2 separate regions of the Homo sapiens genome follow, and region 2 is linked to region 1. Evidence: fine-mapped expression QTL. A gene starts in region 1. The other region holds a variant in brackets. All regions are shown on one strand. Distances are between the middles of the regions. Region 1 holds the start of A2ML1 (alpha-2-macroglobulin like 1). Region 2 overlaps A2ML1 (alpha-2-macroglobulin like 1).

Evidence for each region.
Region 2: its variant is fine-mapped to the expression of A2ML1 in esophagus mucosa (GTEx, PIP above 0.99). The same link has a PIP of 0.9 or more in amygdala, anterior cingulate cortex, caudate, cerebral cortex, iPS cells and nasal epithelium.

What each region holds. Positions count from the first base shown.
Region 1 is chr12:8,815,216-8,831,053 of GRCh38, reverse strand. A2ML1 (alpha-2-macroglobulin like 1) reads right to left here and starts at 8,433. Exons shown (of 36, transcript NM_144670.6): 1 at 8,341-8,433; 2 at 7,689-7,872; 3 at 7,172-7,334; 4 at 1,275-1,327. The coding sequence starts at 8,402. It overlaps A2ML1-AS1 (A2ML1 antisense RNA 1), which reads left to right. Exons shown (of 2, transcript NR_046715.1): 1 at 1-392. RefSeq lists an enhancer at 1,942-2,684 and a silencer at 11,387-11,681.
Region 2 is chr12:8,857,261-8,873,098 of GRCh38, reverse strand. It overlaps A2ML1 (alpha-2-macroglobulin like 1), which reads right to left. Exons shown (of 36, transcript NM_144670.6): 24 at 15,759-15,838; 25 at 15,511-15,592; 26 at 14,997-15,153; 27 at 12,144-12,218; 28 at 11,802-11,964; 29 at 9,091-9,305; 30 at 5,042-5,257; 31 at 4,742-4,869; 32 at 4,472-4,562; 33 at 3,896-3,964. Among named protein-coding and RNA genes, the nearest start is that of A2ML1-AS1, 34 kb to the right of the region's middle. The variant GCC/C (reference allele first, on the strand shown) is at 9,131.

The sequences.
Region 1 (15,838 bases):
TACTTGAGCCCGGGGCAGGGTCAAAGCTGCAGTGAGCCATGACTGCCACTGCACTCCAGCCTAGGTGACAGAATGAGACCTTGTCTTAAAATGTTAAAAAAAAAAAAAAAAAGTAAGAAGTACTCAACGTTATACCTACCAAAGAAAAGCCATAGGTGATGGGAAGGAGGAAGTAAAAGGAAATCTATATTGGGAAAGAGAGTAGCGGGTAGGGCATTACCAATCATAACAAGCTAATAACTCCCCTGCACATAGGGAAAGGAAACAGCAGCTCTGAGAACACGGAGATGGAAAATGGAAATCATGCTTTCTCTATGTTTATCTCTAAAAGTTTCATTTGAATACACAGGCTGGGACAGACGGAAGAGGAAGAAAGCAGGGGTGTCCGGGAGGTAAGTGTCTCAGAAGCATGTAGAAATGACACATGCTCCAACTTGAAATCAAACCTGTGGTAAGGCTTATGATTCTAGGGATGGGGAGTCCAAGGAAAAATCAAATATTCGCAAAATGTTGCTACATTTTAAGCTTTGGCATGTATTTATTTAATGTTGCCCTAAGAGAATTACCTACTTTGTAAATTATTTTGCCTCATAGAAACAGAGTGGAAGCGGACATTCTCCTTTCTGCCTTAAAAAAAAAAATGCTTTTGTCAGTCCTGAAGAAAAGGTCTTGAAGTTTGCGAAAACTCTTAAAATGAAAGGGGGCTGAGCATGGTGGCTCTTGTCTGTAATCCCAGCACTTTGGGAGGCCGAGGTGGGTGGAACACTTGAGGTCAGGAGTTTGAGACCAGCTTGGCCAACATGATGTAACCCTGTTTTTACTAAAAATACAAAAATTAGCCAGGCGTGATGGTGCGCGCCTGTAATTCCAACTATTTGGGAGGCCGAGGCAGGAGAATTGCTTAAACCCAGGAGGCAGAGGTTGTAGTGAGCTGAGGTCACGCCATTGCACTCCAGCCTGGGCCACAGAGCGAGACTCTGTCTCTAAATAAACAAATAAATAAAATAAAATGACAAGGAGCATAACCATCTCTCAAGAACCTGATGAATGTGTAGATACTGAAGCTGAGAACTGGTTACCTCTGCTTGTTCCTAGGCTGATTTAGGCTAGCTCCCTGAAGCTCGCCCAGCACTTCCAGTCCCACGCACACAGCAGTCTCCAACCCAGAGGGCCTCGCCTTGCCACGCCCAGGCTGAGAGGACTTCCACCCTAGAGAATCTCTCATCCTTTTCCCTGTTCTCCCTGCGCCACTCCTTCTCCTCCTCCCAACTCACCTTGTCATTCACTGGAACGAAGTTGCTATCCATGGTGACAATGCGGAAATACACTGGAAAGGAACAGGCATCATTAGCAAAGGGGATGTTTCCTGGCTCAGAATTTTTTTTTTTTTTTTTTTTTTGATACAGGGTCTCACTCTGTCACCCAGGTTGGAGTGCAGTGGCACAACCGTGGCTCACTTCAGCCTCAAACTCCTGGGCTCAAGTGATTCTCCCACCCCAGCCTCCGGAGTAGCTGGGACCACAGGCAGGTGCCACCACACTTGGCTAATTTTTGTAGAGACAGGGTTTCACCATGTTGGCCAGGCTGGTCTATGAACTCCTGACCTCAGGTGATCCACCTGCCTTGGCCTCCCAAAGTGCTGGGATTATAGGCGTGAGCCACCGCGCTCCGCCTCCTGCTCAGAATCTTTCCTCTATCCCTCCTCCTTCCTCACACATGCTCTGAGTCAGCAAAACCCCAACAGGTTTTACTTTTTTACAAAACCTGCTCTGAGAGTAAGGTAAAGTCCAAACACAGGCCTGGAGCTCAGGAGGCAGAGCAAGAGGCAGAATAGAAGCCTCCATTGACCACCCTCCTCATCCCCCACAGTAACACCAAACTGAACAACTGCCCACGCAAAACAGCACTGTCATAAGAACCAAAAATCAGAAGAGTGATCACAGTGCCTGGTTTTAACTTTATATCACTGAAAGAGGCACTGAAGAGGGTAGAAAAGACACACTTGAATTGCTGATTCACCCCCTCCCCGCCATCCCCCAGCAGTGACTGTGGTACAGAGACAGAATCGATGAGCTTGAGGGCGGGAGAGCACAGTGACTGTGGGACTTGGCTTTAGAATGCAATGCTGCCCAATCACAGGGGAAAGCACACAGGGCAGAACTCAGCCAGTGCCCATGGAGGGAGCATTTAGACCAGCGTTAGCCAGGGGTGAACTGCCCATCCCAGCGGTTGGAAGCTGAGTTCCGATTAGCCCCTGGGGCTCTAAATACTCAGCAGTGATAGCTGGGCAGTACTTGTCGTGGGCCTTGGGTGAGACTCAGAGACATGCTGGCTTCCAGTGATTCAGCACATTCCCAGCTGTGGTGACTATGGGGAGAGACTCCTTCTACTTGAGAAAAGGAGAGGGAAGAGTCAAGGGGACTTTGTCTTGCAGCTTAGGTACCAGCTCAGCCACAGTGGGGTACAGCACCAAGCAGGCCCTTGGGGTCGCCAGTTATGGGCTGTGGCTCTTGGATGCCATTTCTGGACCTGCTGTTTGTCAGAGGAGAGCTCACTGCCCTGAAAAGAGAGTCCCAGGCCAGGCACCATTCACCACAAGCTGGTGAAAGGAGACTTTGGGCCTCGAGAGAATACTGGAAGTATCCAGGCAGTACTCCTGTGGGCCTGGAGTAGTGGTGGCCACAGAGAGAGACTCCTCTGTGAAAAGGGGAAGGAAGAGTGGGAAGGACTTTGTCTTATGGCTTGGGTGCCAACTCAGCTGCAGTAGAACAGAACACCAGGTAGATTCCTAAGGTTTCTGACTCCAGGCCCTGGCTCGCAGATTACATCTCTGGACCTTCCAGGGTCATGGGGAACTCACCACCCTGAAGGGGAGGACACAAGCCTGGCTGGCTTTGTCACCTGCTGACTGTAGAGCCCTAGGGCCTTGAGCAAACATGGGCAGTAGCCAGGTACTGGTTACCACAGGCCTTGGGTGAGACACAGTACGGTGCTGGCTTCAGATCTGACCCAGTGCAGTCCCAATGCTGGTGGCCACAGGGGTGCTTGTGTCACCCCTCTCTCCAGGCAGCTCAGCACAAAGAGAGAAACTCTGTTTGTTTTGGAGAAAGTAAGGGAAGAGAACAGGAGTCTCCTCCTGGTAATCTGGAATTCTTCCAGATCTTATCCAAGACCATCAAGGAGGTACCTCTATGAGCCTTCAAGAGCCACAGAGATACTGAGCATGGGGTCCTCCCTAATGCAGATGAACTGCAGAGTCCAAACACTTAGATTACGACACCCAAGTCCCTTCAAATACCTGGAAAGTCTGCCCAAGGAGGACAGGTACAAACAAGTCCAGAATGCCAAGACTACAATAAATACCTAACTCTTCAATGCCCAGACACCAATGAACATCCACATCAAGACCATGTTGGAAAAAATTACCTCACCAGATGAACTAAATAAGGCACCAGCAACCAATCTCCCAGAAACAAAGATAGTGATCTTTCAGATCGAGAATTCAAAATAGCTGTTTTGAGGAAACTCAACAAAATTTTAGATAACACAGAGAAAGAATTCAGAATCTTATCAGATAAATTTAACAAAGAGAAAAAAAAAGAGGTATTGACTTTAAAGAGGAGGTTGAGAGAGAAAATGAGATGGAAAGTTTATTCAAAGTGAAAATAACAGAGAACTTTCCAAACCTAGAGAAAGATATCAATATTATTATTATTTGAGACAGTCTCGCTCTGTTGCCCAGGCTGGAGTGCAGTAATGTGATCTTGGCTCATGTGACCTCCGCCTCCCTGGTTCAAGTGATTCTCCTGCCTCAGCCTCCCCAGTAGCTGGGATTACAGGCACAGGCCACCTTGCTTGGCTAATTTGGTATTTTTAGTAGAGACAGGGTTTTGCCATGTTGGCCAGGCTGGTCTCGAAATACTCATCTCAGGTGATTTGCCCACCTCAGCCTCCCAAAGTGCTGGGATTACAAGCATGAGCCACTGAGCCCAGCTGAGAAAGATATCAATATTAATTACAAGATTATAGAACACCAAGCAGATTTAGCCCAAATGAGTCTACCTCAAGACATTTAATAATCAAACTCCCAAACATCAAGGAATAAAAAACAAAAAAGAATCCTAAAAGTGCAAGAAGACAGACGTGGTGGCTTACGCGTGTAACCCCAGCACTTTGGGAGGCTGAGTGGGGAGGATAACTTGAGGTCAGGAGTTGGAGACCAGCCTGGCCAACATGGCGAAACTCCATCTCTACCAAAAATACAAAAATTAGCCAGGGGTGGTGGCGCTCACCTGTAAACCCAGCTACTCGGGAGGCTGAGGCAGGAGAATCACTTGAACCCAGGAGGCAGAGGCTGCAATGAGCAACCATTTATTGCATTCCAGCCTGCGCGGCAGAATGAGACTCCATCTCAAAAAACAAAAAAACAAAAACAAAAATTAGCTGGGCATGGTGGCGCATGCCTGTACTCCCAGCTACTTGGGATGCTGAAGCACAAGAATCACTTGAACCCAGGAGGCAGAGGTTGCAGTAAGCAGTGATCCCGCCACTGCACTCCACAGCCTGGGCAACAGAGGGAGACTCTGTCTCAAAAACAAAAAAAATTCAGTAACATTTCTATATGCCAACAGGGAACAATCTGAAAAAGAAATTAAGAAAGATAATTCCATTTACAATAGCTATAAATAATATAAAATACCTAGGAATAAACTTTACCAAAGAAGTGAAAGATCTCAACAATAAAAACTATAAAATACTGATGAAAGAAATTGAAGAGGACACACAAAAACATGAAAAGAGATTTCATGTTTCTGGATTGGAAGAATTGATATTGTTAAAATTCCGTACTACCTAAGGCAATCTACAGGTTCATTGCAATCCCTATCAGAATACTAATGACATTCTTCACAGAAATTCTACATCCTAAATCTTAGGACTTTTGTAAAAAAAATCATAAAATTTTTATGGAACCATAAAAGACCTAAAATAACCAAATCTATTCTGAACAAAAAGAACAAAGCTGGAAGAATCACATTACATGACTTCAAATTATACTGCAAAGCTATAGTAACCAAAACAGCATGGTACTGTCATAAAAACAAATACATAGACCAATGGAACAGAATAGAGAACCCAGAAACATGTCTAGGGTGAACTCATTTTTGACAAAGGTGACAAGTGTATACACTGGAGAAAGCACAGGCTCTTCAATAAATGGTTCTGGGAAAATTGGATATCCATATGCAGAAGAATGAAACTAGACCCTCATCTCTCTCCATATAGAAAAATCAAGTCAAAATGGATGAAAGATTTAAATCTAATACCTCAATCTATGAAACTATTATATATAAGAAAACTTTGGGGAAACTCTCCAGAACATTGGTCTGGGCAAAGATTTCTTGAGTAATACCCAAGGAGCACAAGAAACCAAAGCAAAAATGGACAAACAGGATCACATCAAGTTAAAAAGCTTCTGCACAGCAAAGGAAACAATCAACAAAGAGACAACCCACAGAATGAAAGAAAATATTTGCAAACTACCCATCTGACAAGGGATTAATAACCAGAATATATAAGGAGCTCAGACAGCTGTATAGGAAAACATCTAGTAATCAGATTAAAGAACGGGCAAAAAGATCTGAATAGACATTTCTCAAAAGAAGACATACAAATGGCAAACAGGTATATAAAAAAGGTGCTCAAATCATTGACTGTCAGAGAAATGTAAATCAAAACTACAATGAGATATTATCTCACCCCAGTTAAAATGGCTTTTTTCCAAAAGACAAACAATAATAAATGCTGGTGAGGATGTGGAGAAAAGAGAACCCTCATACACTGTTGGTGGGAATGTAAATTAGTACAACCACTATGGAGAACAGTTTGGAGGTTTCTGAAAAAAACTAAAAATAGAGCTTCCATATAATCCTGCAAGCCCACTGCTAAGTATATATACAAAAGAAAGGAAATCAGTATATCAAAGACTATCTGTGCTGCCATGTTTATGGCATCAGTATTCACAATAGCCAAGATATGGAAGCAACCTAAGTGTCTATGAACAGATGATAAAAAATGGATTAAAAAATGTGGTACACATACATAATGGAGTACTATTCAGCCATAAAAAAGAATGAGACCCCATCCTTTGCAACAGCCTGAATGGAACAGGAGGTCATTATGTTAAGTAAAATAAACCAGACACAGAAAGACAAACTTTCCATGTTCTCATTTATTTGTGGGAGCTAAAAATTAAAACAATTGAAGTCGTGGAGATAGAGAATAGAATAATAATTTTTAAGTGTGTGGAAAAAAATAAGGTAAAAGGAAAAAAATTTTTTTGAAAGAGAGAGAGAGAACAGAATGATGGTTACCAGATGCTGGGAAGGGTAATGGTGGGCAGGATGAGGGGTGGGGTGGGAATGGTTAATGGGTACAAAAATATATTTAGCTAGAATGAATAAGATCTAGGGATCTTGTAGTTTTTAGCACAAAGAGTGACTACAGTCAACAATAATTTATTGCACATTTAAAAATTACTAAGAGAGTATAATTGGATTGTTTGTAATACAAGGAAATGATAAATGCTTGAGGTGATGGATACACATGTACCCTGATGTAATGATTACACATTGTGTGTGTGTATAAAAATATCTCATCTACCCCATAAATATATATACACCAGCTATGTACCCACAAAAATTTTAAATAAAAAAATAAAAAAAACCCAAACATAGTTTCTTTTCAGGGTGCCTGACTTTGAAATCTCAGAATGAAGTGCCCCTGTAAGGACGAATGAACAAATACAAAAAAAAAAAAAAAAAAAAAAAAAAACCCCAGTAGCTCAAGCCAAATGCCCTCAGTGCTTTCTTAGCCATTTACAAGCAGTTTGTTGTAAGGCCCAGCAACCCAGTTATACTTGCCAAATTCTATTCCAGAAGAAATGTGTACTTTTGTTTTAGATACACAAACTCAGTAGCAACCCCCACCTACTTCTCTTGCTTGTGTAGCGCAGCATGTATTCAACACTTGCACTACTTAATCCCCCCAGATTTTCCTCTCCTCTGCACTCCTTTTTTTCCAAAGCCTACTGTCAAACCACAAATCCCCTCTTTACCCCTGTGCACAGCGGTTTCCCCAGGTTTTAGTCGAACCCCAAATATGTGACTCTTACCTTGCTGCCCTGGGGTGTAGAGAGGTTTGTCAGTCTGTACAAAGGTGCCGTTCCCCTGCCTCTGAATTAGAACCTTTTTCTTCTCCTCAAAGCTGATGTTATTTCCAACTCCCGACACCCGGATTGTGGCCACTTCTTCTGTGCCACCAGCAGGAGGTGGTACCTGACCAAGAAAGGGGACTTCTGGGGAGGGGTAAGGGATTGGGGGAACAGAATCAACTGGTCTCAACCCAACAGTGAGTTAAAGGAAAGAGCTGAGTTAGATGGGGGTAGCAAGGATAGAGACATAAAACAAATTACCACGAGGAAGAATTAAGGTCAGGAACTAAAGGGAGAAATCCTAGGTCGAGGAAACCGTGGGTGAGTTATAGCCGGGGATTGAGGTTAAGTTGAGAAAAAATAGGTTTAGAGGCCGTGGCAAAAGATAACAGAAATTATACTTAAAGTAGATTATAGTGAGCCTAGGGAGGAGAATAGGCAAGTAAGGGATTCGAGTGAGGGCTGAGTCTGTGCTTACAAGAAAGGAGATACAATGTAAGTGCCTCTTCTTCAGTCCAGAGTATTCTAGCAACTTCTGGGTCTTGTCCTTGGTCTCCAGAGTAACCGTGAATTTAACATCACTGTACCCAGGGCTCAGGTCCAAACAAACCTTCTGAACGGAGGGGAAATTTAGCCGGGCTGGTAATGTCACCAGGTAGTTTCTATTAAAGGAGCAGAAGGATTTCAGGGCAATAATGATTCATTCACTCGAAAAATCCAGCACTCTCCTAAGCGCTCAGCAAGTAGCAGTGAATTAGACAGACCAAGCCCCTGCCTTCCTTATGCACCTCATTTTCTACAAGAAGCAGAGGGGCAACGACTCAGTGCACAGTCTTCAACTTCCGCCATCAGGAGGCCCTCACCGAGCACACATGCCTAGAGCACCAAGGAGGAAATTAGGCCTATTTCAGAAAACAGGGCACATTTTAATATTTATCTTTTTTAAAGCTTCCTCTTCATGCGTCAGCCTCCCTCTCTGGGTAAAGGATCAGTGGAACCAAAGAAGAGAAAAAAGGAGGAGGAAATTAAGATAAACCAAAGTTGATCTCCCCATCTCCATATAAATGTTTGAGAAAGTTAGGCGAAGAAGCCGCTGCCCTAATAAACCAATTCTGACACCAAGCACTCACGGAAGTTCTTCTGCAATGGCTGGTGATAGGGCCAACATTCCTAGAAGGAGCTGAGCCCACATCTTTGTGGGTGAGACAGATTTTTCCAGGGTCAGGGGCAGAGATCGCTCCGCGTAGCTTTATATACTAATTCCAGGTAGGGTGTGCAGTGATGACTGATGCTATAGTCAGTCACCTCCTGGCACCTGGAACACAGGAGGACTGTGTTCCTCCTTCTGTAACCACCAGGTTAGGTGGTGGACCAGGGTAGGGCCACTATTCACTTCTTTAAAGTTGTTTCTGCCTGGAACATCCATACTGGTTCAGCCAGTTTTGGGGGAAAACCAGAGCTGAGTATTCATAATGGTAAAGCTCTCAGAACATATTTTGAACTCCTCCCTTTTTTTCTGGTCTCATTCCAATTCCTGTTCTCATTTAATGTCCTTATTTTCTTTTATTATTCAATTAAGGTGTAGTTGGGAACACGGGTATGAGAACAGTTTCAATAGAAAAGCAGTAAACTTGGCCGGTCACAGTGGCTCACGCCTGTAATCCCAGCACTTTGGGGGGTTGAGGTGGGCAGATCACCAGGTCAGGAGTTCAAGACCAGCCTGGCCAACATAGTGAAACCCTGTCTCTACTAAAAATACAAAGAAAAAAAAATCAGCTGGGCATAGTGGTGGGTGCCTATAGTCCCAGCTACTTGGGAGGCTGAGGCAGGAGAATCGCTTGAACCCGGGAGGTGGAGGTTGCAGTGAGCCGAGATCATGCCACTTTACTCCAGCGTGGGTGACACAACGAGACTCTGTCTCAAAAAAAAAAAAAATTAATACTACTCAGTATTGTTGTGACTGTATGGAAATAGGGACACACACAGTCCTAGAGAAAATAGAATGTGGATAACTTTCTCATGGCAATTTTGTAATACACACCAAAGCCTTTGAGATTTGCATATTCTTTCACTCAGCAACTCCTACTCTGGAAATGTTTCTTAATGAGGAAAAAAAGGACAGCATGCATGTATGCACAAGTGTAACACTGAGTTTTTTCACACTGTTCTTTCTTTTTTTTCTTTTCTTTATTTTTTATTTTTTTGAAGTAGAGTCTCACTTTATCACCCAGGCTGGAGTGCAGTGGCACAATCTCAGCCCACTGCAGCTTTGACCTCCTGGGCTCAAGCGATCCTCCCACCTCCACCTCCTGAGTAGCTGGGACCACAGGTAGGCACCAACACTCCTGGCTAATTGTTTTGTATTTTTAATAGAGACAGGGTTTCACCATGTTGCCCAGGCTAGTCTCGAACTCCTGAGCTCCAGGGACCACCTCAGCCTCCCAAAGTGCTGGGATTACAGGTATGAGCCACCGTGCCCAGCCCACAGTGTTCTTTATGATGGTAATACTTAGAAGTCACCTAAAATATAAATTAGTCTAAGTGCAGTGGCTCATGCCTATAATCCCAGCTTTTGGGAGTCAGAAGCTGGAGGATTGCTTGAGCCCAAGAGTTTGAGACCAGCCTGGGCAACATAGTGAGACCCCGTTTTGTAACCACCCAATGGATTCACCTTGCTTGCTGCCTAGACAGAGCCGATTTATCAAGACAGGGGAACTGCAATGGCAAAAGAGTAATTCACGCAGAGCCGGCTGTGTGGGAGACTGGAGTTTTATTATTACTTAAATCCTTGAGCCTTCGTGGATCAGAGTTTTTAAAGATAATTTGGCAGGTAGGGGCTTGGGAAGTGGGGAGTGCTGATTGCTCAGGTTGGAGATGGAATCATAGAGGGTCGAAGTTAGATTTTCTTAATGTCTTCTGTTCCTGGGTGAGATGGCAGAACTGGTTGGGCCAGATGACTGGTCTGTGTGGTGTCAGCTGATCCCATGGAGTGCAGGGCCTGCAAAATAACTCAATTACTGATCTTAGGTTTTACAGCAGTGATGTTATCCCCAGGAGCAATTTGGGGAGGTTCAGACTCTTGGAGCCAGAGGCTGCATGACCTCTAAACTGTAATTTCTTTTTTTTTTTTTTTGAGACAGAGTCTGGCTCTACCGCCCAGGCTGAAGTGCAATGGCGCGATCTCGGCTCACTGCAAGCTCCGCCTCCCGGGTTCACGCCATTCTCCTGCCTCAGCCTCCCGAGTAGCTGGGACTACAGGCGCCCGCCACCACGCCCGGCTAATTTTTTGTATTTTTAGTAGAGACGGGGTTTCACCGTGTCAGCCAGGATGGTCTCGATCTCCTGACCTCGTGATCCGCCCGCCTTGGCCTCCCAAAGTGCTGGGATTACAGGCGCGAGCCACTGCACCCGGCCTCTAAACTGTAATTTCTAATCTTGTAGCTAATCTGTTAGTCCTACAAAGGCAGACTGGACCCCGGGCAAGAAGGGGGTCTTTTTGGGAAAGGGCTGTTATCAATTTTGTTTCAGAGTCAAACCATGAACTGAATTCCTTCCCAAAGTTACTTCGGCCTATGCCCAGGAATAAACAAGGACAGCTTAAGGGTTAGAAGCAAGATAGAGTCGGTTAGGTCTGACTTCTTGCACTGTCATAATTTCCTGTTACAATTTTGCAAAGGCAGTTTCAGTCTGTATAAAACATTTCTTTAAAATTAGCTGAGTGTGGTGGTGCACGCCTGTAGTCCCAGCTACTCTGGAGGCTGAGATGGTAGGATTTGCTTGAGCCCAGGGGTTCAAGGCTGCAATGAGCCATGATAGCACCACTGCACTCCAGCCTGGGCAACAGTGAGAACTTGTCTCATAAAATAAAATAATAAAATAGATTAGCCAGGATGCTCTCTGGGACCAATGATCATCCTATATCAAACCAGCCTAAACAAAAAAGTGTTTTTGGTAACTGGAATGGATCCAACAGGAAGAATGAGCTTATGGAACCAGAGCACCTTGAAAAACTTGACAGCCCAGGAGTGGAGACGTGGTGCAGCCAGGGCCGACTCCTCCCAGTCCTTCTCTCTTGTGTACTTGTCTCTGATTGGTTCATTTTCTCCTACTGCACACAAGCTTTTCTTCAAGTCGTAGGGAGGACGGCAGCTGGGAGCCCTCAAGCCATATTCGTTCAGCTCCACGACCCCAACTGACAAAATTTTTCACCTATGTTATAGAAATTCCCGAAGAAGGACTGTGTTCCTCCCTCTCTCGCTGGCTCACCTCTGAATCAGTCACTGTAGTCAGGAGGGTATGATAGGCAGGGCCTGGGTCATTCTCCCACCTAAAGGCCAGGGTGATGGGGTACTGTGATTGGCCACCCCTTTAGAACCACAGGGAGTTGGGGAGGGGAAATTGTTCAAAGAAATCACTACAGTAGGAAAAGTGTTGGTGTAAAGAGCTGCAAACATAAAACATTAAGTCTATTACAATGCCCCATAAAGAGTTCGGTTGAATAAACTGTCATGTTAATATAAAGCAATACTCTGCTGCCATTAAAAATAATGTTTTCATGATAAGGGGAATTATTTGCAATGCTAATTGAAAGGGGTTGGGGCTGGTGCAGCGGCTCACACCTGTAATCCCAGCACTTTGGGAGGCCGATCCGTAGGAGCTCGAGACCAGCCTAGTCAACATGGCGAAACCCTGTCTCTCCCAAAAATACAAAAATTAGCCAGGCATGGTGGTGGGCGCCTATAATCTCAGCTACTCGGGAGGCTGAGGCAGGAAAATCACTTGAACTGGGGAGGTGGAGGCTGCAGTGAGCTGAGAGCATAACATTGCACTCCAGCCTGGGCAACAAGAGTGAAATTCCGTCTCAAAAAAAAAAAAAAAAAGAAAAGAAAGGGGTTGGGGAAAGTGATACAAAACGACATGTGGCAAGTTCCACTTTAACTTGGAATTTGAAAGGCTAGAAAGAGTGTGGCTTGGTGGCTCGAGCCTGTGATCTCAACACTTTGGGAAGGCAAGGTGGGAGGGTTGTTTGAGGCCAGGAGTTCGAGATCAACCTGGGCAGTATAGTAAGACCCCATCTCTACCAAAAAAAAAAATTAAAAGTTAGCTAGGTGTGGTGTCACATGCCCAGCTACTTGGGAGGCTGAGGCAGGAAGATCACTAGAGCCCAGGACTTCAAGTCTGCAGTGAGCCATGATTGTGCCACTGCACTCCAGCCTGGGCAACAGAGCAAGACCCTGTCTCTAAGAATAAAAAATAAAAATAAGCTGGAAAGTGCATTGCCCCCTCTCTGACAATATGAAAAAGCCAGACAAACTGCAAAATCACTTTTCTTAAACCAAAAGTTGAACCTAAATGCTGAGCTGGGCCGGGGGCGGTGGCTCACGTCTGTAATCCCAGCACTTTGGGAGGCTGAGGCAAGCAGATCACAAGGTCAGGAGTTCGAGACCCGCCTGGCCAATATGGTGAAACCCTGTCTTTACTAAAAATACAAAAAAATTAGCCAGGCATGGTGGTGCATGCCTGTAATCCCAGCTACTCGGGAGGCTGAGGCAGGAGAATTGCTTGAACCCAGGAGGTGGAGGTTGCAGTGAGCTGAGATCACGCCATTGCACTCCAGCCTGAGTGACAGAGCAAGACTCCATCACAAAACAAAACAAAAGAAAACAAAACAGCTGAGCTGAGGTTGCAGGTAAGCTAAGTAGCCTGAAATTCAAGGACATGCAATCCTCATGAGCAGAGACCAGATGGGTGGAGTGTCTCATCAGTGCCAGAGTATGGGAGGTATTTAGGCCATCATACAAGCATGCAAGAAGAAAGCAGCTACATTTTTCATAAATTGCTAGAGGCCTAGTGCAGACTAGAGTGACTATAAGGAGCCTCTGGGTGTCACAGAAGCAAGGAGGGCTTTACTTACCCACAGGCTCCTTTCCATGACCTCTACCAGGTGTTCACAGGAAATACTGGGGGCCAAGTGGGAGACTACAAAGAGCCCCCTCAGTACTATGGGCATCAAGGACCGTATTTGCTATCATTGCAGAAAAGGCCCCAGCTGCCCATGCTCCTCTCTCGAAAGCCTTAAGACCCTGGGGAGGACTGGCAAATACTGTTGCTCCCAGGGCACAGGTGTTACCAAGGGAAGAGCAGGGAGGACCCTAGTCCGAGGGAGGGACAAGGAGCAATTGTGAGCCCAGAGTTCTAAGCTAATACTTTTAGAGGTCTCCTGAAACTGAAGGAGGAGCACAAAAAAATCTTTCCCACCCAAGACCAGCCACAAATTCAAAGCAGGGTTTGGCAGCCTGGCATAAGGAGTGGGGCAGAAATACTCATCCCCCAGGGCCCAGGCATATAAACCTACCTAAGATAGAAGATGAAGAGGGCAACAGAGAAGCACCCTGTCCCCTCACCATTACCCGAGCAAGAGCACCAAGTAACTAAGCAGTCCGCCACTGGCAGAGGGCATGAACGTGCAGAGAGACGACCTCTGTGGGGTCTGCTGTGTGGTGTACAGAGGAGAACGAGAGCTGAGGGTGGGGCACAAACACTGAGAAATAGCCAGCACTCCAGATGCCACCCTAAGCATAAGGCATCACAAAAGGAATTTGAAGCCTATGATGTACCGAAAGTAAACTTGGCAATTACAAAACCTGCACAGTTCACCTTTTAACTAGATTAACTCAATCCACCAAGCTAACTGCCTGAGAAGAGGTGTGTCCATTTCTAGTCACAAATACTATTTATTTAAATCTCTCCTGTTCTACACAAGATGTTTGGCAATCAATGAAAAATTACAAGTTGTATCAAAAGAAGAAGAAGATGACAACAACATCCTGTGAAGATACAAAGTAATCAATGGAACCAGGCTCAGAGCTGCCCTCCATGTTATAATAAAAGAGAGAGACTTTAAAATGCCCAGGAGTCATATGTCAAAGGAGCTCATGAAAAAAAAAAAAGGACAACAGACATGAGGAGATGGTGTCAGGGGTGGATTTCAAAAGAAAGGTGGAAGTGATCGACTTCCTGAAATACTAAACATGACAGACTTTATAGAAGTTTCAAAAATAAGATATGCAATATCAGGCCAGGAACAGTAGCTGAAGCCTATTAATCCCAGCACTTTGGGAGGCCAAGGCAAAAAGATCACTTGAGCCCAGGAGTGTGAGACCAGCCTAGGTAACATAGTGAGGAGACTTTGTGTCTATGTAAGATAAAGACATTAGCTAGGTGTGGTGACTTATATCTGTAGTCCCAGCTACTTGGGAGGCTGAGGTGGGAGAATTACTTGAGCCCAGGAGGCCAAGGTCGCAAGCAAGCTGAGATCGCACCACTACACTCCAGCCTGGGCAACAGAACAAAATCCTGTCTCAAAAAAAAAAAAAAAAAAAAAAGAAAATGCTGTATCAGAGATGAGCAGCTCCTTCTTCAGGCTCATTAATAACCTTGACAATACGAATATAGCTGAGGAAATAATCGATTGCCTTGAAGTTAGGTCAATAGAAATTACCCAAACAAACACAACAAGAAAAAAGAGTGAAAATCATTTGAATTCTTTTCAAATAATTTGAATTTTTATAGCACTTGAATTATCTTCAAGTGCTATAAAACAATATCAAATGGCTTAGCATACATATTATCAGAATCTTAGAAGGAGAAACGAGAAAGAACAAGCAGAAGACATGTTTGAAGAGACAAGAAATGAGAATTTTCCAAAAATAATGAAACACATCAAAGAATAGATTCAAGAATTATAAACAATTTCTCCATGTTTCCCCTAATTCACACACACTAGGCACATACATACATGCACGCACCGTCTCTTGGTTAGGTTGTAAAATTGTGATGGTCTCTGGAGGCTCTGTTTGATTTGGACACAGGGAAAACCAGTATATTCAATTGAGTTTTGGGTCACTCTACCACTCTACATAAACTCCATAAACTTTTTTTTTTTGAGACAGGATCTCGCTCTGTCACCCACCCTGGAGTACGGTGGCGTGATCTCAGCTCACTGCAACTTCCACCTCCCAGGTTCAAGAGATTCTCCTGCCTCAGCCTCCTGAGTAGCAGGGATTACAGGTGCGCGCCACCATGCTGGGGTAATTTTTGTATTTTTAGTAGAGACAGGGTTTCACCATGGCCTCCCAAAGTGTTGGGATGACCGGCATGAGCCACTGCGGTCTTGTTTTCCTTGGTTCCCATCACTCTTCCTGCTAAGAGCAATCGCCCAGGTCTGTGAACACCCACTCCTCCGTAGATGGTGAGTGCCCCTCCAGCTAGAGCTGCTGACTCCCTTTACCACTTCCATCAGTCAAATCGGCCCACCAGTGATTTTTATCTCTTCTGATCCATTTTAAAATCTATTTAAATGCAGCTATCAGTCTGATAACCTGTCTGGAATTTGGTGGGAGGAAATGTCCAGGGTTTAATAATCTCCCAAAGTTAGGCTGCATAAAACCCTACTGTTGACATCTCATGTGGTGCATATGGGCGAAACGGAGCCGTGTGGAAGGCTATTCTGTAAAGGGGTTAGCGTGCTTGGATTTGCTCTGGGTATCAGAATCCTGACTTGAGACTTTTAGCTTAGATAGACACCATAATATGTTACTTCGAAGGCTTCTTACACTTGGACCTTTA
Region 2 (15,838 bases), 42 kb before region 1:
GGTCAGAATTATTTTTAGAATGATATTAAGACTTTTTTTTTCCACTCTCATTCTCTTACAAATATACAGGAGATTGTTTCCTTCTGGGGAAAGTGATTTAAAAAAATAAAAAACAAAACAAGTATACAGGAGAGTTATCAGAGGCTACTTTATGTGTAATATTGCAACGGTTTGAATGTAGGAGTAAATAGGAAAATTTCATTCTCTTTGATTAAGCCAGATATTAAAGCAAAAATGCAAAACAATGTCACCATTCTTATTTTTTTGTTTTGGAAAATAGTTATTTTCTTTTTCTTTTTCTTTTTTTTTTTTTTTGAGATGGAGTCTCACTCTGTTGCCCAGGCTAGAGTATAGTGGCATGATCTCGGCTCACCGCAACCTCTGCCTGCCAGGTTCAGGCGATTCTTCTGCCTCAGCCTCTCAAGTAGCTGGGACTACCGGCACGCACAACCATGCCCAGCTAATTTTTGTGTTTTCAGTAGAGATGGATGGGGTTTCACCATATTGGCCAGGTTGATCTCGAACTCCTGATCTCGTGATCCACCCGCCTCGGCCTCCCAAAGTGCTGGGATTACAGGCATGAGCCACCACGCCTGGCCAGAAAATAGTTATTTTCACAAAAATTTTATTTATATTAAGATGTAGTGAGTTTATTATCATTTTTAAATTAATTAATAAATATTTTAAGATTGTCTCAGTTTTAATTTCTAATATGATAAAGACCAATAGTTAAAACCCACTTCACCGAAAGCTGTTTGAGGTCCTCAGTAAATTAAGAGTATAAAGGGACACTGAAACAAAGAATTTTTAGAACCACTGTTCTTTTCTATCATTTGGTCACCATAATGAATTAAAGCAAATGACTAATATGAACCAAAAGAAAGCTGGGGTAGCAGTTTTTTTTTTTTTTTCTTTTTTCTGAGATGGAGTCTTGCACCGTTGCCCAGGCTGGAGTGCAGTGGCGCAATCTCGGCTCACTGCAAGCTCTGCCTCCCAGGTTCACGCCATTCTTGTGCCTCAGCCACCTGAGTAGCTGGGACTACAGGCTCCTGCCACCACGCCCAGCTAACTTTTTGTACCTTTAGTACAGACGGGGTTTCACTGTGTTAGCCAGGATGGTCTTGATCTCCTGACCTCATGATCTGCCCGTCTCAGCCTCCCAAAGTGCTGGGATTACAGGCATGAGCCACTGCGCCCGGCCAGGTAGCAGTTTTAATATCTGACTAAATGGCACCCAAGGCAAGGGAAAAAAATTGTGTGTGTGTGTGTGGCGGTGGGGGAGTGTAAGAATCTAAGGCAAAAGTAAATGATATAAATATATACACATATATAGTAATGGGGAAAGGATAGTATGTACTAATATAAGGAAAATTTAATAAGAAGATATGTTCATAACATATATATCTAATTATGTAGTCTCAAATATATCAGGAAACAATTGGCAGAAATGTATGGATAAATGGATAAATCAAATATCATAATTAGAGGCCAGGCGTGGTGGCTCACACCTATAACTCCAGCACTTTGGGAGGCCTAGGCAGGCAGATCACTTGAGGTCAGAAGTTCAAGACCAGCCTGGCCAACATGGTGAAACGCTGTCTCTACCAAAAAAATACTAAACAAACAAACAAAAACCATCATAATTGGATATTTTAACACATGCTTTTCAGAAATTGTTAAATCAAGCAGAAAAATAAGCAGAGTTATCAAACACATGAACAACAGAAATAATGATCTCAGACTTCTAGATCAGAATCCAAGCCCAAGAGAAAAGAAATAGATGTTCTTTTGGAGTGCACACTGAACACCTGCAAAAACAGATCATGGATTAGGTCATGGAAGAAACTTCAGCACATTCCAGGCAATCAGGATCATGAAGACTGTATTCTCAGACCATAATGCAACAAAATTAGACATCAGGAACAAAAGGATGGCTTTAAAAATTCCATGTGTTTCCCAACAAATTAAGAAATAGTTAGAACTGAATGACAGTAAAAACATTGCTTGTCTGAGATTGTGGGAGAGGGATGGCATGTACCTAGAGGGACGCTTATAGTGTAAGTTCATCAAAAAATAAGGAAGACTATATATGTGAATAAGGTCATCCTCTGGTGAAATTGATCAAGAACACAAGGGAGAAGACACACAGAAAAGAGGAAATAACCACAGATACAATGATTAGCACTGGCTTTTAGATCATTAGGCCTGTTAACTCAAATTAGAAGCCAACTGGCAGATTTGGCAGGACACACTGAGGAGCAGTTCATTGCAGTCTCAGGCATGGTGTCATGGAAATCAGACTCCCCAGGTTCTGCTCCCACCCTAGACACTGACAGATGGTATGACTTGGACAACCCACTCTCTCTCTCCAACTCTGTCTCCTTATGTCTAAGGAGGGTGGCTGTAAGACTTGAATAAGTCATGTATGAAAGCATCATAAACTTGGCAAAGTTTTAAACAGCAACATCATGATTACAGGGTAGTGCCAGATAAGCTAACCCGAGCTGTCTCAAAAGAAACTATACACAACTCGGCTGGGTGCGGTGGCTTACGCCTGTAATCCTAACACTTTGGGAGGCCGAGGTGGGTGGATCACGAGGTCAGGAGATCGAGACCATCCTGGCTAACACGGTGAAACCCTGTCTCTAGTAAAAATACAAAAAATTAGCCGGGCATGGTGGCGGGCGCATGTGGTCCCAGCTACTCGGGAGGCTGAGGCAGGAGAATGGCATGAACCCGGGAGGCAGAGCTTACAGTGAGCTGAGATTGTGCCACTGCACTCCAGCCTGGGTGACAGAGCGAGACTGCGTCTCAAAAAAAAAAGAAAAAAGAAACTATACACGGCTCACACAACATAAAAAACCCTGGCTCCCTGGAAGACAGGAAACACAGTTAGATGATGGGGTTGGTGGGTGGGCAGGGGGTTGGAAATGGATGTTACTAACAACAGTATGTTTTGATTTGGGATATTCTTGTCTTTTGGTTATATTCAATAAGGATAACTTTGTTCCTTGTGTGGAATGGAATATCATGAAAAGGAACATTGTAACAATCTTTAGAACATTGTTAGTCCTTGAGAACTTCTTGTTTTGTTAAAATGAAAGGTTACATACAATGTCTGATTAATATTAAGTAATATTAACATTATGTTAAAATGATAGGAATAGCTATAAAGTGATGAGGGCTTACTCTATACCAGGTACAGTTCTAAATATTTTTACATGTCTTAAATAATTTAGTTTTTTCTATAACTCTAAAAGAACTATTTTGACCCCTACCCACACACATTTTACAGCTAACTTTCAACAGCTTGTCCAGTTACTCAGTCAATGCTAGAACCAAGATCACAGCCCAGGCAGTCTGGCTTCAGAGCTTCTGCTATTAACCACTATAACATACTCTAGAGTTGCAATGTCACTTGTGGCTATTGAGCACTTGAAATGAGGTCAGTCAGAATTGAGATGCACTGACAGTGTAAAGTACATACTGGATTTCAAAGATGTGGTACAGAAAAAAAAAAAGAATGTAGATATCTCATTAATACGTCTGTATATTAATTGTATGGTAAAATGGAAATATTTGGGGTGTATAAGCTTGCATAAAATATACCGTTAAACTTAATTTCATCTGTTTCTATACTTTTTAAATGTGTCTACCAGAAATCTTCAAATGTCGTAAACGGCTCACATTATAGGTCTGTTGGACAGGGCTCCTCTAGAGGCACAATGGGGTGTTTTACGGTATACCAGCATGGAGGCAGAACTCATGGCATGGTGTGGACTCACTCCCAGGCCCCTCATCCCCATGTGTGTGACACCCGTATATACAGATTAGAAGGGAAGTCATGAAGATCCGTAAGCAATCCAGCTCTTTGATCTGGTTCCTGAATACCTACCTCATCCAAGTAAATGTTAAGTGTGTCAGTTCCAAATTCAACCTTCTTCACCAGGGGTTGCTGGAGAAGCTGAATAAGAGAGGGAGAAAAAAAAGATACTAAGAGCCAGAGCCTTCCCTGGGGTAGTCTTCCAAAGCTCTGCCATGATCAAGGAAACAATATATACTGTGGAAAAGGTAGGAAAAGGGAACCAAGACTATTACAAGTTGCATGTCATATATCTGCTACAACCTTGCAGCCCATTTAAATAATCCAATCATGAGTTTGTGTGTATGAATATATACATATATGCACACATATATGTACATACATGCACATATATACATGTATATATACCTACATATGTATACACACACATATATATAATCACATACTGTGTATATGGATGCCATATATATATATGAAAACTACTTTTCTTACAAGTGTACATACATATACATACATATATATGTATGTATATACATGCCTTGTGTGTGTGTGTGTATACACGCCATGATGCCCATTTTACCAGTTTTTTAAATTATAACGTTAGGTCCCCTCACAGCTAGATAAATGAAGAAAACAGAAGTAACTTACTAACTGATTGGTGCCCTCCATGGGACTGAACCCAGATAGCATCTTCACTTCCACAATAGCCATATTGGAAGAGCTACGGCTCCCCACATAACTGAGAGCAGGAAGAAGAAAACACATGTGAGCCTATTACTTCAGTGCACTCTGCATCCCCAACACACACACACACACACGTACACACACACATACACAGACACACACACACACAAGTGTCCCAGCTCAGCTCCTATGACCAGGTGCTCTGCCGGCCACCAGCACCCCAGCTTTAATCACCTGGTGTGAATAGTGAGAGTCAAGGATCGAGGTGAAGTCGGTTGCTCACATCTAGCTTTTCCTATTTCCACACTAAGACTAAAGGTCTTCATATTTGTGGGAGGGAGAATATTGTATCTCAACACCGTCTGGTAGGAAGAAATAGGTAGCCAAATCAGACTTGGAAAGAACTTTAAAGATTGTACAGTTCAAACTACTTTTCTTACAAGTGAGAAAGAAAGAGAGAGAGAAGGCCTAAGGGGAAGATGCTCTCCGACTCTCCTTCCCAATGTCCGCTCATTCTCATGGATCTCTACTTACCTGCACATAGACACAGCCCTGGCCTGAGGCCTCCAACGTGTACATTCCAGGGACATTGGGCAGGGTATCCTGCTGAAATACCAATCTGTTAACTGACTGTATGTTGAATGTGCGCTGGAAATTCTCAGTGGATTTTACAACCAGGTTGATCTCCTCAGATGGCATGTAGGCGGTAGTGGCATATTTGGCAAGAGCTTGGAGAGCAACTACAGTATCCTGAGGGAAACAACCAAACGTATACTTACCATTTTGTGAGCCATTGGAATTAACCTTGAACAACTCTATAACCCACACATCTGGTTGTTGTTAGTTGGCTTGGATGATGACTTCTTTAAGTATTTAGAGAACTATACCCACCTCCTCTGGAGAAGCTGGCCTAGAAATCACAGTAGCTTGCTTTTTTTTTTTTTCAGATGGAGTTTTGCTTTTGTTGCCCAGGCTGGAGTGCAATGGCACGATCTCAGCTCATTGCAACCTCCGCTTCCTGGGTTCAAGTGATTCTCCTCCCTAAGCCTCCCAAGTAGCTGGGATTACAGGCGTGTGCCACCACATCCGGCTAATTTTGTATTTTTAGTAGAGAAGGGGTTTCTCCATGTTGGTCAGGCTAGTCTTGAACTCCCAACCTCAGGTGGTCCGGCTGCCTTGGCCTCCCAAAATGCTGGGATGACAGGCATGAGCCACCATACCCAGCCAGTAGCATGCTTTTATAGAAAATCACCATCAACAAGGTACTACTGAACATCCACAGATTACTTGGTTAACCTAATCAATTCATGTTCAGAAACCAACAGTTTCAGAATGAGTTATTGCTAGAAGCAAGTGGATAATTGTTCAGTATATATTTTACAGCTTCCTTATTTGGGGGAGAAACAGTAGTAACTTGATAGCCCTAGAAATTGCAGTCTATGAAGTCATTTAACTGTGTAATGATCTTCTACATGACAGTTGGAAGGAGTATAAGGGACCCTAGGAAAGTCCTTCCCTGCAGGCTGGCTTCTTAGCCATTATACCATGTGACAATCTTTTATTTCTCTGGGAATAAGACAGATAAACTGTCACTAAGTGAGCATGGTACAGTGATATTTGAACTGTTTCATTCTGAAAACATAATTCATATAAATTACAAGGGGAAAGAAAAATGAATGAAGTGTTCAACAAAATTGTTATATCTCACTCGTGTAAAATATCTATTACAAAAAATATCTATTACAAAAAAAAACCCGATTTCTTCATCTCACAAATGAAAAATACATTCTTATTTCGACATTATCACTGTCCTACAAAACAGGAAGACAGGTCACCCACCCTGGTGAAGCTGTGAAGAAGTTCTATCTGTGCAGCTTCACCATCTACAAACAATTTTTGTTTACCTTTTGTGGACTGGAGCCAGGGAGGTTTTTTACTGCTTGAACATATGGAGACAATTCAAAGAAAGGGACCTCACTGTCAGCTGAAAAACCAGTGTGGGTAATATATGATATATGACTTCTTGTGATAGCCAAGGATTTCATTGAAAAAGGATTCTGACATATACCTGTCACTGAGAGTTGTAAACATTTCACCCACTGCTTTCCAAAAATATTATTATATATTATAATTATTCAGGACCGAGCAAGAAGGAGTATTTTGTGATCTTTGGCCAAGAATTTCCCTGAAACAGGGAGGCATAGTACCATATAATTTTTTTAAGTTTCAATTAAGTCATTACCATATTTAAACTTGGTGCTTTTTTTTTTTTTTTTTTTTTTTTTTTGAGATGGAGTCTTGCTCTGTCTCCCAGGCTGGAGTGCAGTGGCGCGATCTTGGCTCACTGCAAGCTCTGCCTCCTGGGTTCACGCCATTCTCCTGCCTCAGCCTCCCGAGTAGCTGGGACTACAGGCGCCCACCACTGTGCCCGGCTAATTTTTTGTATTTTTAGTAGAGATGGGGTTTCACCGTGGTCTCGATCTCCTGACCTCGTGATCCACCTGCCTCGGCCTCCCAAAGTGCTGGGATTACAGGCGTGAGCCACCACACCTGGCCTAAACTTGGTGCTTTTAACATTTTTACCAAACATGCAACCTATTAAAAGATGTTCATTCTTTCAGGTCTGATTTACATGTTATATCTTCAGTGAAATTGGCTAATTTCAACAAATCAGAATATAATCTTCATGAGAACAAGAAATATATTTTCTTAGTTATTTCTGTAGCCTCATCAAAGTGATTTGGACATGGTAGATATTTAATATTTTCAGAATACATAGATTAATGACTACTCTCTTCATTATAATCTAAAATAATTTTTTATGATTTGAGTTTATCATACAATTCTACCCCTCTGTTTTTTCCATACTGCCACACCACTCATTCAATTTCCCAATTTCCCCTTACCCCTAACCTAGATAAAGGAAACAGTCTCCTGATCTCTTCAAGTCCAATGTTTCTCCTCTCTAAATTATCTCACACACCAAGTGGCTGATTAATCTTTCTGAAACAAAGTTAAAATTGTTGTTGTTGTTGTTGTGTTGTTGTTGTTGAGACGGAGTTTTAACTCTTGTTGCCCAGGCTGGAGTGCAATGGCGCCATCTCGGCTCACCGCAACCTCTGCCTCCCGGGTTCAAGCGATTCTCCTGCCTCAGCCTCCCAGGTAGCTGGGATTACAGGCACCCGCCACCACGCCTGGCTAATTTTGTATTTTTAGTAGAGATGGGGTTTCTCCATGTTGGTCAGGCTGGTCTCGAACTCCCGACCTCAGGTGATCCGCCTGCCTCGGCCTCCCAAAGCACTGGGATTACAGGCATGAGCTGCTGTGTCCAGCCTAAAAAATTTTTGTTTGTTGTTGTTTTTGTTTGTTTTTGTTTATTGTTGTTGTTGACACAGAGTGCTGCTTTGTCACTCAGGCTGGAGTGCAGTGGCACGATCTCAGCTCACTGCAACCTCTGCCTTCCGGGTTCAAGCAATTCTTCTGCCTCAGCCTCCCGAGTAGCTGGGACTACAGGAACATGTCACCACATCCAGCTAATTTTTGTATCTTTAGTAGAGATGGGGCCACATCCAGCTAATTTTTGTATTTTAGTAGAGATGGGGTTTCACCATGTTGACCAGGCTGATCTTGAACTCCTGACCTCCAGTGATCCAACCGCCTCAGGCTGCCAAAGTGCTGGGATTATAGGCGTGAGTCACTGTGCCCGGCTAAGACTTTTCTTATCCCTCAAGCTGATATGAGCTTTCTCTCCCATTTTGAAATTCGATATGTTGTACCTTTTGCATGTTTCTTATATTATAAACCAGATCCTCTTTGTAATACATAGACTTTGTCCTCGCTTTTCTTCTAGACTGTAAACTTTTTAGAGTTCAGACTATATCTTATTAGCTTTCTAATACCTGCAATAGCAGAAGAAGGATAGAAGGATATGTGCCCATGAATCTTGGTGTTATCTTTACAGACCCCATAATGGTCTTCCTAGTTTATTAATATGTACATTTAGCCATAATTATATATATCCTACTTGCATGTAAAACATGGACCTCATGATGTTGCTTTTTTTTTTTTTTTTTTTTTGGAGACAGAGTTTCACTCTTGTCACCCAGACTGGAGTGCAATGGCATGATCTCAGCTCACTGCAACCTCTGCCTCCTGGGTTCAAGCGATTCTCCTGTCTCAGCCTCCTAAGTAGCTGGGATTACAGGCACCTGCCATCGCACCTGGCTAATTTTTGTATTTTTAGTAGAGATGGGGTTTCATCATGTTGGCCAGACTGGTCTCGAACTCCTGACCTCAGGTGATCCGCCTGCCTCGGCCTCTCAAAGTGCTGCGATGACAGGCATGAGCCACCATGCCCGGCCCCAATGTTTCACATTCAACAAAAAAAAAAAGAAAATTAAATACATCTGGTACTATTAATGTGCTCTTATAACCCATTTTATGAATACTTCCATATATTGTTCACAGGCTTTTCCTCTCTCTAAGCCCCTGGACCGAGAAGGCAAGGACAATATGTTTTCCTCTATCTCCACACAAGATCTAATTCTACCTGATAAGTGGCAGTGGGAGAACAGGCTGTTTACCTGAGTAGAAGAGAAGCCCCCATATGCATTGTGTTGCTTG[GCC/C]AACCAAGCCACTATGCTAGTGGCCTTCGCTATCTCCTTTTGAGTCAGGCTGGGCTTGGTAAGCTGGGCCAACAATGCATATGCTGTGAGTTCCACATCTACAGCCGCAGGCTCAGACCAAGGGCTGGCGTTCGATGATGGAGTAGGTTTCTGGCTCCAGTAAATGGATTCTCCTATGGAAAAAGAAACATAACTAGGATGTCCTTAGAAGGAACTGGCTTTCCCACATTCACTTTGTAAATGCAGCATCTTAGAGCAGAGTAAGTACCAACTGAGAATTAAACAGAGTAGAAAAAAAATTTCTTAGATTTAGCTGATTAATTGACCTTGATGTAAATGCAAGGATGCATGTGCGTGCCTGTGTGTAAAGCTAGAAGCATCGATAAATGTTCCTGCCTCCAGCAATTACATGAAAACCACCCTTGTTAATTTATCAGTTTTGATGCTAATGGAAATAGGTAAATAGAAGCTTCTTATAAGAATCTCTGTGTTTGGGGGCAATTTTTGTTTGCTTACAGTTTTATGAATTTTTCAGCATTTATTTCATTTAATCAAAGATTTAGGCCGGGTGCGGTGGCTCACACCTGTAATCCAGCACTTTGGGAGGCCGAGGCGGGTGGATCACCTGAGGTCGGGAGTTTGAGACCAGCCTGACCAACATGGAGAAACCCTAACTCTACTAAAAATACAAAATTAGCCAGGCGTGGTGGCGCGTGCCTCTAATCCCAGCTACTTGGGAGGCTGAGGCAGGAGAATCATTTGAACCCGGGAGGTGGAGGTTGCGGTGAACTGAGATCACGCCAATGCACTCCAACCTGGGCAACAAAACAAGAGCGAAACCCAGTCTCAAAAAAAAAAAAAAGATTTAACATTTTAAGTAGAATAAAAATGGCAGAGTATATGAAAGAATTCTGAGAAACCATGAAGAAATGCTAATGAGGCCAACTATATGAAACATGCTTAGAAGGCAGTCCAATAGAATGAGACCAAAAGAAACCTCTGTGACAGCCAAGATGACAGATAATGGATAACTTGAAGAAAAATAAATAAGAAATGAGAAGACTGTACGTTAGAAGACTAATTAAACAGAATTTTAGAGATAATAAGTAACCACAGAAGGGCAATCTAATTGGAAGAACGTAACAGGAAACGTGAGCTTGCAATACAAGATAATGGAAAAGAGATCATCACAATAAACCAATACACGGTGGAACAGGTGTATTTAACCCATTGTCTCGGACACACATTTCATGACTGGAGTTGCTTAGACACAAGAGAAAAAACTACCTGACCCCCTGTGAGAGGACAGCTCAGCCATGACGCTCATATAAATGAAGGCTGAGACTGCACTTCTGCCTGGAAGAATAATTTTAAATACACAGCCAGATAAATGAAATGCATTAAAATTTTATTTACAAGATCTGTCATACTTCAAATAGTATTCTAAATATATTTAAAGTGGTCCAGGCCAGGTGCAATGGCTCACGCTTGTAATTCAGCACTTTGGAAGACCAAGAGGGGCGGATCACTTGAGGTCAGGATTCTGAGACCAGCCTGGCCAACATGGTGAAACCCCCTCTCTACTAAAAATACAAAGATTAGCCAGTGTGGTGGCGGGCACCTGTAATCCCAGCTACTCGGGAGGCTGAGGCAGGAGAATCACTTGAACCCAGGAGGCAAAGGTTGCAGTGAGCCAAGATTGCACCACTGCACTCCAGCCTGGGTGACAGAGCAAGACACCGTCTCAAAAAAATAAAAAGTAAAATAAAAAATTTAAAAAATATTTAAAGTGGTCCTACATCAAAGCACTTTCAAAGATCTCCAAAAGGGTGATTCCACAATGCCAATATATTTTCCGACTAGCTTCTTCAATGTAGTTTCTCTTCACATTAAAAGTATAAAAATGTGGCCAGGCATGGTGGCTCACGCCTGTAATCCCAGCACTTTGGGAGGCCGAGGCAGGTGGATCACCTGAGGTCAAGAATTCGAGACCACCCTGGTCAACAGGGCGAAACCCCTTCTCTACTAAAAATACAAAAATTAGCTGTGCATGATGGCACACACCTGTAATCCCATCTACTCGGGAGGCTGAGGCAGGAGAGTTGCTTGATCCTGGGAGGCAGAGGTTGCAGTGAGCTGAGATCACGCCATTGCACTCCAGCTTGGGCAAGAAGAGAGAAACTCGGGCGTGGTGGCTCATGCCTGTAATACCAGCACTTTGGGAGGCCGAGGCGGGTGGATCATGAGGTCAGGAGATCGAGACCATCCTGGCTAACACGGTGAAACCCCGTCTCTACTAAAAATACAAAAAATTCGCCGGGCGTGGTGGTGGGCGCCTGTAGTCCCAGCTACTGGGGAGGCTGAGGCAGGAGAATGGCGTGAACCCGGGAGGCGGAACTTGGAGTGAGCCGAGATCACGCCACTGCACTCCAGCCTGGGCAACAGAGCAAGACTCCGTCTCAAAAAGAAAAGAAAAAAAAGTATAAAAATGCCCTTTGAGCACTTGCGTGTGTTTCTCACAAACCTCCCAACAATAATTTGATGACTTAATAACTGTTACTAAAATGAATCCTAGAGTACATGTGTGGGACAGAGGTTACTAGGGAGATTATAGATAACTCACAGCTTATGTTCACAATTTCAAAGAACTCTCAACAGGACCAACATACCTGAGATGATAGCCTGTTGATCTAACTGTTTAAGGAGAATGTTTCTGATGTCCATTTCCCCAGCCAGGGAGAAAATGTAAGCCAACAGGGCCTGTGTGTAGAGGTTGGTCGTGGAGGTGGCCGAATTCTTGAGACACCGTAGACCCTGACTCACCATTGGGTCCTAAAAAGTGAAGATGAAGACTATAACTTATAAGGCATTCCTTTAAAAATGGCAAGTAATCAGGAAATCATCTTATCCTTCTTGACCTTAAAAGGGTGACTAGAGACAAAGATGGGTGAATGTCTCTAGGAATACGCATGAGAAGGAGGGTATCAAGAGCAGGAGCCAGGAGAACTTACATCTACATCCTTTCCCATCTCCAGCAATGCAGCTGTGACATACGCAGTCAAGGAGACCTCATCATCAACACCACCCTAGAGGCAAACAGGGAGGCAGTGAGTCAGGGCAGCAGGCAGCAGCTGCAAGAATTATGTGCAGATTGCAAAACAGCCTCCCCTCTGAATAGATGAATAATTTTTAAAAAGAAAAAAGAAAAGAAAGCTCTTTTTTCCACAGGCTTTCTGCAGCTCCAAGCCTCCAGGACACACAAAGAGGGAACAGTTTGGACTTCATAACTGCACAGCCTTAAACAGCCTGCAGGAGGCAGCATGTGGACTTCAGCTGAGTGGGTATTTAAGAAACCCAAGAGAAGGAGTTAGGAAGGGTAAGAGCTTTAAAGAAGGGAGGAATAAGGAGAGAATCTGCCGCATCACCGCATCTGAGCCTCCTCACATGCAGCTCCCCTCAAGCAGCACAATACCCAGCCCTTCTCCAGCAGAGATTAGGTGAGACCTTCCCTGCTTATCGCCTTTCCCAGAAAGAGCTAAGCAAATTTTTAAAAATATCTACTCAAATTATTATCCTCATTCTATAAATAAGAAAACAAACACTTAACAAGATTAAATAGCTTGTGGTCACGCACAGTGGTTTATGCCTATTATCCCAGCTTGAGGCCAAGTCGGTGGGGAGGATCGCTTGAGCTCAGGAGTTTGAGGCCAGCCTGGGCAACACGGTAAAACCCCAACTCTACAAAACCTGCAAAAATTAGCCAGGTGTAGTGGCACGTGGATCCGTGGTCCCAGCTATTCAGGAAGCTAAAGTAGGAGGATCATCTGAGCCCGGGGAGGTCAAGGCTGCAGTGAGCCATGATCGTGCCACTGCACTTCAGCCTGGGTGACAGAGTGAGACCCTGTCTCAAAAAAATGAATAAGTAAATAAATAAAAAGATTAAATAGCTTGCTCACGGTTACATGGCTCATCTGCAGCAGGACTGGAATTTGAACCCAGGACATTTAACTCTGGAGCTCATGTGCCACACCACTAACCTTGGCTACACAGAGGATGGATTTCTCAATGGACTGGCCTGCTCTCAAAAGAAAGTAGGAAGAGGCTGGGCACGCATAGGTCACGCTTGTAATCCCAGCACTTTGGGAGGTCAAGGCGGGTGGATCACTTGAGGCCAGGAGTTCAAGACCAGCCTGGCCAAACATGGTGAAACCCCATCTCTACTAAAAATACAAAAAGTAGCCAGGCATGGTGGCACATGCCTGTAGTCCCAGCTGCTCAGGAGGCTGAGATCACTTGAACCCAGGAGGTAGAGGTTGCAGTGAGCTGGGATTGCGCAACTACACTCCAGCCTGTACAACAGAGTAAGACTCTTGTCTCAAGAAAAAAAGAAAAGAAAAAAAAGGGAAAGAAGGAAGAATACCTCTGAGATCTTGCTCTAGTCAAGTCCTTTATCTTAGTAGAGACAGGGTTTCAGACTGGTCTCTAATTCCTGACCTCATGATCCACTCGCCTCAGCCTCCCAGAATGCTGGGATTACAAGCATGAGCCACTGCGCCTGGCCCCCACGCATATTTCATACAGTGTATAAGAGAAGAAGAAGACAAAAACTTAGGGGAGACTAATAAGATCCTGCAGAGGAAGACTAATGAATCCTATAAATAGATTTTTTTTTTAACACTCAAGATTTTTAATCCTTGCCCTGGAATAGCAATGTAAGTGATCTCTCTAGAAAAGTTTATACAAGTCTTTCTTGCACTGAGTGTGTCCTGAATTGAACAAGTTATCCTGCAGGATCTACGCCTCGCCCTCTGCTTGGGACAGGTACAGACAAGGTAGTGAACAGAAGAAAGCAGTGCCTCTGGAGTGCAACTGCCTGGTTCAAATCTCAGTCCTGCCACTTATTAGCATGCACCTTGGGCAATTTACTTAGTCTCCATGGCTTAGTTTCTTCATCTGTAAAATGGGATTAATAATGGCATACCAATACCTAGCTCATTGATTTGTTGTAAACATGAAATAATATCAAATAAACCACGTGCCTAGAATAGTGCCCAATAGAGTAAACTTCTTACAAAAGACGTTGGGCTGCCTACTAGTCCTCACCACAGGAAATGGCTTTCCCAGATGGATTTGGTGACACAGTAAGAGGCCCAGAGATCTTTTAGTCCAGTAGTATCAAATTTCAGTGTGTATCAGAATAATCAGGAGGGCTTGTCAAAACACAAATTTCTGGCCCACCCTCCCAGAGTTTCTCATTCAGTAGGTGTGGGCTGGGAGTCAGAATCTGCGTTTCCAACAAGTTCCCATGTGATGCCAATGCTCCTGATCTGGGAACTATGCTTTGAGAACCATGTTCCAGTCCACATTCTCTTTTTCTTTTTGAGGCAGGGTCTCACTCGGTCACCCAGGTTGGGGTGCAGTGGTGCAATCACGGCTCACTGCAGGCTTGACCTCCTGGGTTCAAGTGATCCTCCAACCTCAACCACCCAAGTAGCTGGGACTACAGGCATGCACTAACAAGCCTGATTAATTTTTCATATTTTTTTTGTAGAGATGGGGTTTCACCATGTTGCCCAGGGTGGTCTCAAACTCCTGGGCCCAAACGATCTGCCCGCCTCGGCCTCCCAAAGTGCTGGGATTACAGGCATGAGCCACTGCACCCAGGCTTCATCTGTATTCTCATTCTACAGACATGAAAACTGAGGCCCAGACCAGCTAAGCATTTTGATCACGGTCACCCAGAGCCACAGTGGAGATCAGGAGAAAACTGATTCCCAGGCCAGTGCTCTTTTGCTTCTACTCGGTCAGAGGTGTGGGGTCCTTCGAGACAGTGGTTGGCTGCAGGCTCCTGGACAGATCCGCACCTTCATAGCTGTGTGAAGGAGATTTCCCACGTTGGCATAGCAGCCACTGGGGAGCTGGTTTCCTGCCATCCACTTGAGAGCATCCTGGATGTTCTTGGGATCAATGAAGATGAATTTCTGAGCTTGGCCAAAGCATTTTGTGACAAACGCTGTCAGCCTACATGGGTAAAGAGGAAAATATGGCATGAAGAGGAATTTCCAGGTGAGGGTGCAATCATTTCTTCATTTATTTGGGTGTATACTTCCAGAAGGGGAGCTGAGGGAACATATGCCATAGCAGGCCTAGAAAAGAGAGGCATTAATGGGCACCAATGAGGACAAGAACAGGGGAGGCACAAGCTCAGGAAGATCGAGGGACTTGACCATCCATGAGGGTGAAATAAACAGTATTAAAGAGGTAGAAGACTGAGTGCAAGAAGGAAAGGGGTTAAGGGGAGAGGTAGTGGAATAGTTCCAGAGGGCTCAGGAATTATGCTCTGGAGTACAGAACTCATTGGGAATTGGGTGATATTACCATGTGTTTCCATTTCCATCTCGCTCCCCAAAGGCACTGTATGAGCCATTGCTGTGTTTGTACATCAGCTCCTTCTGGTACCCTGGGAAGCCAAATGTGGTTTTAGATCACAGCGACAACTTCAGAAAACACCCCCATGCCGTTCAAGGATATGGGACACTTGAGGGGCTGGAATTCCCTGTATCATCAATCTGTCATAGGGCCTAGTGGAGGAGAGTGTTCAAGAAAGAAAGACTGAACCAACTTACCTATTTCCAGGAAACCCACTGCCCGAGACCTGATCTCCTCCGTCAGCAGCCCTGCCTTCTCCAGGTACTGCAAGACATAG